2 linked regions of the Homo sapiens genome follow. The protein of the gene in region 2 purifies or fractionates together with the protein of the main gene of each other region. This does not show direct contact. Each region holds a gene or a part of one and is shown on either strand. Other genes may lie near its edges.

Region 1 (3,500 bases), on a different chromosome or scaffold from region 2:
GCCTGCCTGGTTCAAGTAATTCTTGTGCCCCACCCTCCCAAGTGGCTGGGATTACAGGCATGCACCACCACACCTGGCTAATTTTTGTATTCTTAGTAGATATGGGGTGTCACCATGTTGGCCAGGCTGGTCTTGAACTCCAGGCGTCAAGTGATCCACCCGCCTCGACTTCCCAAAGTACTGATTTATAGGTGTGAGCCACCAAGCCCAGTCAGGAGCACACTTTTTTTTTTTTTTTTTCCTTTGAGACAGAGTCTTGGTCCGTCACCCAGGCTGGAGTGCAGTGGCGCGATCTCAGCTCACTGCATCCTAACCCCGTTTTCCGGATTCAAGCAATTATCGTGCCTCAGCTTCTTGAGTAGCTGGGACTACAGGTGCGCCATGCTGGCTAATTTTTTTTTTGTATTTTTAGTAGACACGGGGTTTCACCATGTTGCTGGGCTGGTCTCAAACTCCTAGCCTGAAGGATCCACCCACCTCGGCCTCCCAAAGTGCTGAGATTACAGGTGTGGGCCACAGAGCCCAGCCCACACTTTTTTTTTTTGGAGACAGAGTCTTGTCCTGTATCCCAGGCTGGAGTGCAGTGGCACAATCTTGGTTCACTGCAGCCTTCACCTCCCAAGTTCAAGGAATTCTCCTGCTTTAGCCTCCTGACTATCTGGGATTACAGGTATGTGCCACCACACCTGGATGATTTTTGTATTTTTACTAGAGTTGGGGTTTCACCATCTTAGCCAGGCTGATCTTGAACTCCTGACCTCAAGTGATCCACCTGCCTTGGCCTCCCAATGTGCTGGGATTACAAGCATGAGCCACTGCGCCCTACCAAGCCCACACTTCTTTTTTTTTTTTTTTTTTTTTTTTGAGACAGAGTTTCACTCTTGATGCCCAGGCTGGAGTGCAGTGGCACGATCTTGGCGCATCGCAACTTCCGCCTCCCAGGTTGAAGCGATTCTCCTTCCTGAGCCTCTGGAGTAGCTGGGATTACAGGCATGCGCCACCACACCCAGCTCATTTTGTATTTTTAGTAGAGATGGGGTCATGTTGGTCAGGCTGGTCTCGAACTCCTGACCTCAGGTAATTCGCCTGCCTCAGCCTCCCATAGTGCTGGGATTACAGGCGTGAGTCACCATGCCGGGCCTAAGCCCACACTTCTTAATACTTAATAGATGAGCAAAGCTATGGAGGAAACATAGGATATGTTCAGGTTGTGGCCAGGTTATAGTCTTTGACAGGAATGTAGATTTTGTGAGGGAAGAAGGGACATAATTAGTCTGGAATAAGAACCGAAGAATATAAGTGTTACACTGACGACTTTGGCCTTTTGTTTTAAATGGGAGGAAACCTTGTAGAAAATATTTCCTATTCAGTCAGCTCCAGCCCAAACTGGTTTATATGTGTCACATTGCCTTTGTTTACAACAGTTCCTGAAGCCAAATTGCCCTACCAGTACACCTTTTCAAATGCTAGTAAAGCCTGGTTTCAAACTCAGCTTTTCAAAATGTTTACTGATGCCCTCGCCAGTTCTTCCTCCAACCTCCTATAGTGCGTTTATGGCTACTTTTTATTGCTTATACTGCTTTTGGTAATTATGTATGCTTGCCATTTCGGACTCTCACTTGAACTTGCATTGTTTACCTTTTTGTAAATTTTTTTCGAGACCTGTCTTCTGTGTCTTTTTTTTTTTTTTTTAATTTTATTTTTGAGACAGAGTCTCGCTCTATTGCCCAGGCTGGAATGCAGTGTCGTGATCTGGCCTCACTGCAACCTCTGCCTCCTGGGTTCAAGCAGTTCTCCCTGCTTTAGCCTCCCAAGTAGTTGGGTAGCTGGGATTACAGGCGCCTGCCATCATGCCCAACTAATTTGTTTCTTTCTTTTCTTTTCTTTTCTTTTTTTTTTTTTTTTTTTGAGACAGAGTTTTGCTCTTGCTGCCCAGGCTGGAGTGCAATGGTGTGATCTCGGCTCACTGCAACCTCTGCCTCCTGGGTTCAAGCGATTCTCCTGCCTCAGCCTCCCGAGTAGCTGGGATTACAGGCATGCGCCACCACGTCCGGCTCATTTTGTATTTTTAGTAGAGACTGGGTTTCTCCATGTTGGTCAGGCTAGTCTTAAACTCCTGACCTCAGGTGATCTGCCGACCTCGGCCTCCCAAAGTGCTGGGATTACAGGCCTGAGCCACCATGCCCGGCCTAATTAATTAATTAATCTTTTAGAGATAGAGTCTCGCAGCTGGGTGCGGTGGCTCACGCCTGCAATCTCAGCACTTTGGGAGTCTGAGGTAAGTGGATCACGAGGTCAGGAGTTCGAGACCAGCCTAGCAAAGATGGTGAAACCTTGTCTCTACTAAAAATAGAAAAATTAGCCAGGTGCAGCGGCGGGCACCTGTAATCCCAGTTACTCAGGAGGCTGAGGCAGGAGAATCCCTTGAACCCGGGAGGTGGAGGTTGTGAGCCAAGATAGCTGCACTCTAGCCTGGGCAACAGAGCAAGACTCCCTCTCAAAAAAAAAAAGAGAGAGAGAGAGAGATGGAGTCTTGCTGTGTTGCCCAGGCTGGTCTGAAACTCATGGCCTTAACCACTCCACAACCCTTGCCTTGGCCTCCTAAACTGCTGGGATTACAGGTGTGAGCCACAGTGCCTCGCTAATTTTATTTTTTTTTTAATAGATAGTATTAAAAGGTAGAAGATCTGGTCGGGCATGGTGGCTCAGTCCTGTAATCCCAGCACTTTGGGAGGGCGAGGCGGGCAGATTACCCGAGGTCAGGAGTTCGAGACCAGCCTGACCAACATGGAGAAACCCCATCTCTACTAAAAATACAAAAGTAGCTGGGCATGGTGGCGCATGCCTGTAATCCCAGCCACTCGGGAGGTTGAGGCAGGAGAATCACTTGAACCTGGGAGGCGAAGGTTGTGGTGAGTCAAGATGGCACCATTGTATTCCAGCCTGGGTGACAAGAGTGAAACTGCATCTCAAAAAAAAAAAAAAAAAAAAAAAAGATCTGGCTGGGCATGGTGGCTCACGCCTGTAACCTGAGTACTTTGAGTGGTCGAGGTGAGTGGATCACCTGAGGTCAGGAGTTCGAGACCAGCCTGGCCAACATGGTGAAACCCCCTCTCTACTAAAAATACAAAAATTAGGCCTGGTGTGGTGGCTCACGCCTGTAATGCCAGCACTTTGGGAGGCTGAGGCTGGTGGATCACCTGAGGTCAGGAGTTTGAGACCAGCCTGGCCAACATGGTAAAACCCCGTCTCTACTAAAAATTCAAAAAATTAGCTGGGCATGGTGGCGCGTGCTTGTAATTCCAGCTATTTGGTGGGGCTGAGACAGGAGAAGCACTTGAACCCTGGAGGCAGAAGTTGCGGTGAGCCAAGATCATGCCCCCGCATTCTAGCCTGGGCAAGAGTGAGACTCTGTCTCAAAAAAAAAAAAAAAAAAAAAAAAAGGGCATGGTGGCGGGCACCTGTAATCCCAGCTACTTGGGAGGCTGAGGCAGGAGAAT
Region 2 (3,500 bases):
CAGTCATCATTGATTTGACAGAGGACTCGAATGAGCAGCCAGACAGTCTTGTGGACCACAATAAACTAAATTCTGAAGCCTCTCCCTCCAGGGAGGCAATAAATGGCCAGCGAGAAGACACTGGGGATCAGCAGGGGTTGTTGAAGGCCATTCAGAACGACAAGTTGGCATTTCCTGGAGAGACCCTTTCAGACATTCCTTGCAAAACAGAGGAGGAGGGTGTTGGCTGTGGAGGTGCAGGGAGGAGAGGCGACTCCCAGGAATGTTCGCCACGGAGCTGCCCGGAGCTGACGAGTGGCCCGAGAATGTGCCCCAGAAAGGAGCAGGACAGTTGGAGTGAAGCTGGGGGCATCCTGTTCAAAGGGAAGGTGCCTATGGTGGTCTTGCAGGACATCTTGGCTGTGAGACCACCGCAAATCAAGTCCCTTCCAGCCACACCCCAAGGCAAGAACATGACCCCTGAGAGTGAGGTGCTGGAATCTTTCCCCGAAGAAGACTCTGTACTCAGCCATTCGTCCCTGAGCTCTCCCTCTTCCACCAGCTCGCCCGAGGGGCCGCCTGCTCCCCCAAAGCAGCACAGCAGTACCAGTCCCTTCCCCACCTCCACGCCCCTCCGCAGAGTGAGTATCTCCCATGGAGTCCCTGCACATCAGTGCTCACGGATCTCAGAGCGCTGTCAGTCTCCACTGGGTCACCCAGGTGTTTTGTGGCAGAGTGAGCGGGGCCACGGGCTGGGTCCTGGGACTCGACGTGGAGTTCTTCCTGGTATCAAAACTCACAGTGTTCAGTTCTGCATTCGTTGTGATGCCCCTGGGACTTAATTCATCAACAGTGTACCTGGTGTACTGTGTGAATAACACCCTGCTGTTTTGCCTTCGTTGTTCACATCTAATCAGTGATAGCTTAGCCGTTTTAGGGAATTAGGATCTGAGCTGGTGCTGTAACCCCTCACTTCAGATTCGAGGTCCAGCTTTCTCTGTGCCCTTCCTGTCTAAGCATAGAAATGTAGGGACGGGGCTGCAAAGACACTGAGCACTGAAGTGGCAGTGAGACGGCAGGAAGCATGACTTGGGGAATTCTGTAGGGTCAGCACAGCCAGCCATCTTAAAAACCTTACCTGGGGCCAGGCACAGTGGCTCATGCCTGTCATCCCAGCACTTTGAGAGGCCGAGGTGGGAGGATCGCTTGAAGATCACTTCAAAACCAACCTGGGCAACATAGACACCATCTCTATGAAAAAAAATTACTTTTTTTTTTTTTTTTGACAGAGTCACTCTATCACCCAGGCTGGAGTTCAGTGGCGTGATCTCGGCTCACTGCAACCTCCACCTCCCAGGTTCAAGCGATTCTCCTGCCTCAGCATCCCTGATAGCTGGGATTACAGGTGCGCACCACCACACTTGGCTAATTTTTATATTTTTAGTAGAGACAGGGTTTCACTATCTTGGCCAGGCTGGTCTTGAATTTCTGACCTCAAGTAATCTGCCCGTCTTGGCCTCCCAAAGTGCTGGAATTATAGGCATGAGCCACTGCACCCAGCCCTGCAAAAAAATTTTTAAAAGTTATCCAGGCATGGTGGCACATGCCTGTAGTCCCAGCCACCTGGGAAACTGAGGCAGGAGGATCACTTGAGCTGAGGAGTTGGAGGCCGCAGCGAGCTATGATCACACTGCCGCGCTCCAGCCTGGGTGACAGAGCGAGACCCCATCTGGAACCATTTTTAAGGACCCCATAAGGGGGACTTTTGCATGGTCTGTCTCTGTTATTGATTTTTTATTAGCACAATGGTGTCCTTAAGGTCTTAGGGACCAAACTGATAAAATCAGTCACGAGTCCCACGGTGTTTAGTGGTGTCTTTTGATTTTATAATTTTTTACTTTTTATCTTAAGTATGTAGAACCAGAAGAGACAGTGCCTTTTTATGTTTTTGGTTTTGTAGCACTTTTGTTTGTTCATGTTGGGTCTTTATATGAGAGTAGTAGATCCTGAGATGGGTCATTTAATCTGTACCTGTAAGCAGGTACAGTAGACCACCTGGACCATAAACCACCAACCTTGTTCGCTTTCGGGATTTTGAGCTCTAAGGAACCATTTATTTATTTATTTTTGAGACAGAGTCTTGCTCTGTCACCCAGGCTGGAGTACAATGGCGCCATCTCAGCTCACTGCAACCTCCGCCTCTTGGGTTCAAGCAATTCTCCTGCCTCACCCTCTCAAGTAGCTGGGATTAGAGGCACCCGCCACCATGCCCAGCTAATTTTTGTATTTTTAGTAGAGACGGGGTTTTGCCATGATGGCCAGACTGATTTCAAACTCCTGACCTCAGGTAATCCACCCGCCTTGGCCTCCCAAGTTTCTGGGATTATAGGCGTGAGCCACTGTGCTTGGCCAAGAGCATTTATTTTTCTGAATGACTTCATTTCTTGTCTTTCACCTGAGAAGATGAAAAAGGAAAAAATGGCTTCCTCTTTAGGTTTATGAAATGTTGTAAAAATGGTGCAAATCTTTTTTTTTTTTTTTTTTTTTGAGACATGGTCTCACCCTGTCGCCCAGGCTGGAGGGCAATGGCATGGTCTCAGCCTACTGCAGCCTCCACCTTCTAGGTTCAAGCGATTTTCCTGCGTCAGCCTCTTGAGTAGCTGGGATTACAGGTGCCCACCACCACGCCTGGCTAATTTTTGTATCTTTTCAGTAGAGACGGGTTTCACCATGTTGGCCAGGCTGGCCTCAAACTTCTGACCTCAGGTGATCCGCTTGCCTCGGCCTCCCAAAGTGCTGGGATTACAGGCATGAGCCACCGCCCCAGTCTTCTACTTTGTTTTATATGTGCTGGTTTGTTATATAGGTAAACTCTTGTCGTGGGGGTTTGTTGTACAGATTATTTTATCACTCAGGTACTAAGCCTAGTACCCTCTTCTAAGTTACTAAATGTGCCAGACTGGCATGTACACATTTCAGCTTCTACCTAATCCACCACTCAATCTCCCAAAATCAGAGTTGAAGTCTCTCCCCATTGGGCATCCTGTAGTGTACATTCGATCACTTGAATTTCTTCCAGGCTGCTGCCGCTTTGCAAAATTTCGTCCTGTGATGTGAGCCATTTAGCAAGAACGGGACACATGGCTGGGCGCGGTGGCTCACACCTGCAATCCCAGCACTTTGGGACGCCGAGGCGGGTGGATCACCTAAGGTCGAGAGTTCAAGACCAGGCTGACCATTATGGAGAAACCCCGTCTCTACTAAAAATACAGAAAATTAGCTGGGTATGGTGACGCTTGCCTGTAATCCCAGCTACGCCGGAGGCTGAGGCGGGAGAACCGCTTGAACCCAGGAGGCAGAGGTTGCGGTGGCCTGAGATCGTGCCATTGCACTCCAGCCTGGGTAACAAGAACAAAACTCCGTCTCAAGAAAAAAAAAAAGGACAGGACACAAGCACATGTTTCCATTAAGTTTGTTTCCATGTCCACAGCTTAGTCTGCAAACTGGGAAGTCCCCTCGTT

Evidence for each region.
Region 1: the proteins of CHAF1A (region 2) and CBX1 purify together in Homo sapiens (affinity purification with mass spectrometry; 4 studies listed by BioGRID and IntAct, with this or other methods). This does not show direct contact.

Annotation. Positions count from the first base shown.
Region 1 is NC_000017.11:48,091,479-48,094,978, reverse strand, and holds part of CBX1 (chromobox protein homolog 1), read left to right. Parts: intron 1-3,500. UniProt on the Homo sapiens protein: Component of heterochromatin. Recognizes and binds histone H3 tails methylated at 'Lys-9', leading to epigenetic repression. Interaction with lamin B receptor (LBR) can contribute to the association of the heterochromatin with the inner nuclear membrane.
Region 2 is NC_000019.10:4,409,140-4,412,639, forward strand, and holds part of CHAF1A (chromatin assembly factor 1 subunit A), read left to right. Parts: coding exon 1-620; intron 621-1,365; exon of another isoform or gene 1,366-1,384; intron 1,385-3,500. UniProt on the Homo sapiens protein: Acts as a component of the histone chaperone complex chromatin assembly factor 1 (CAF-1), which assembles histone octamers onto DNA during replication and repair.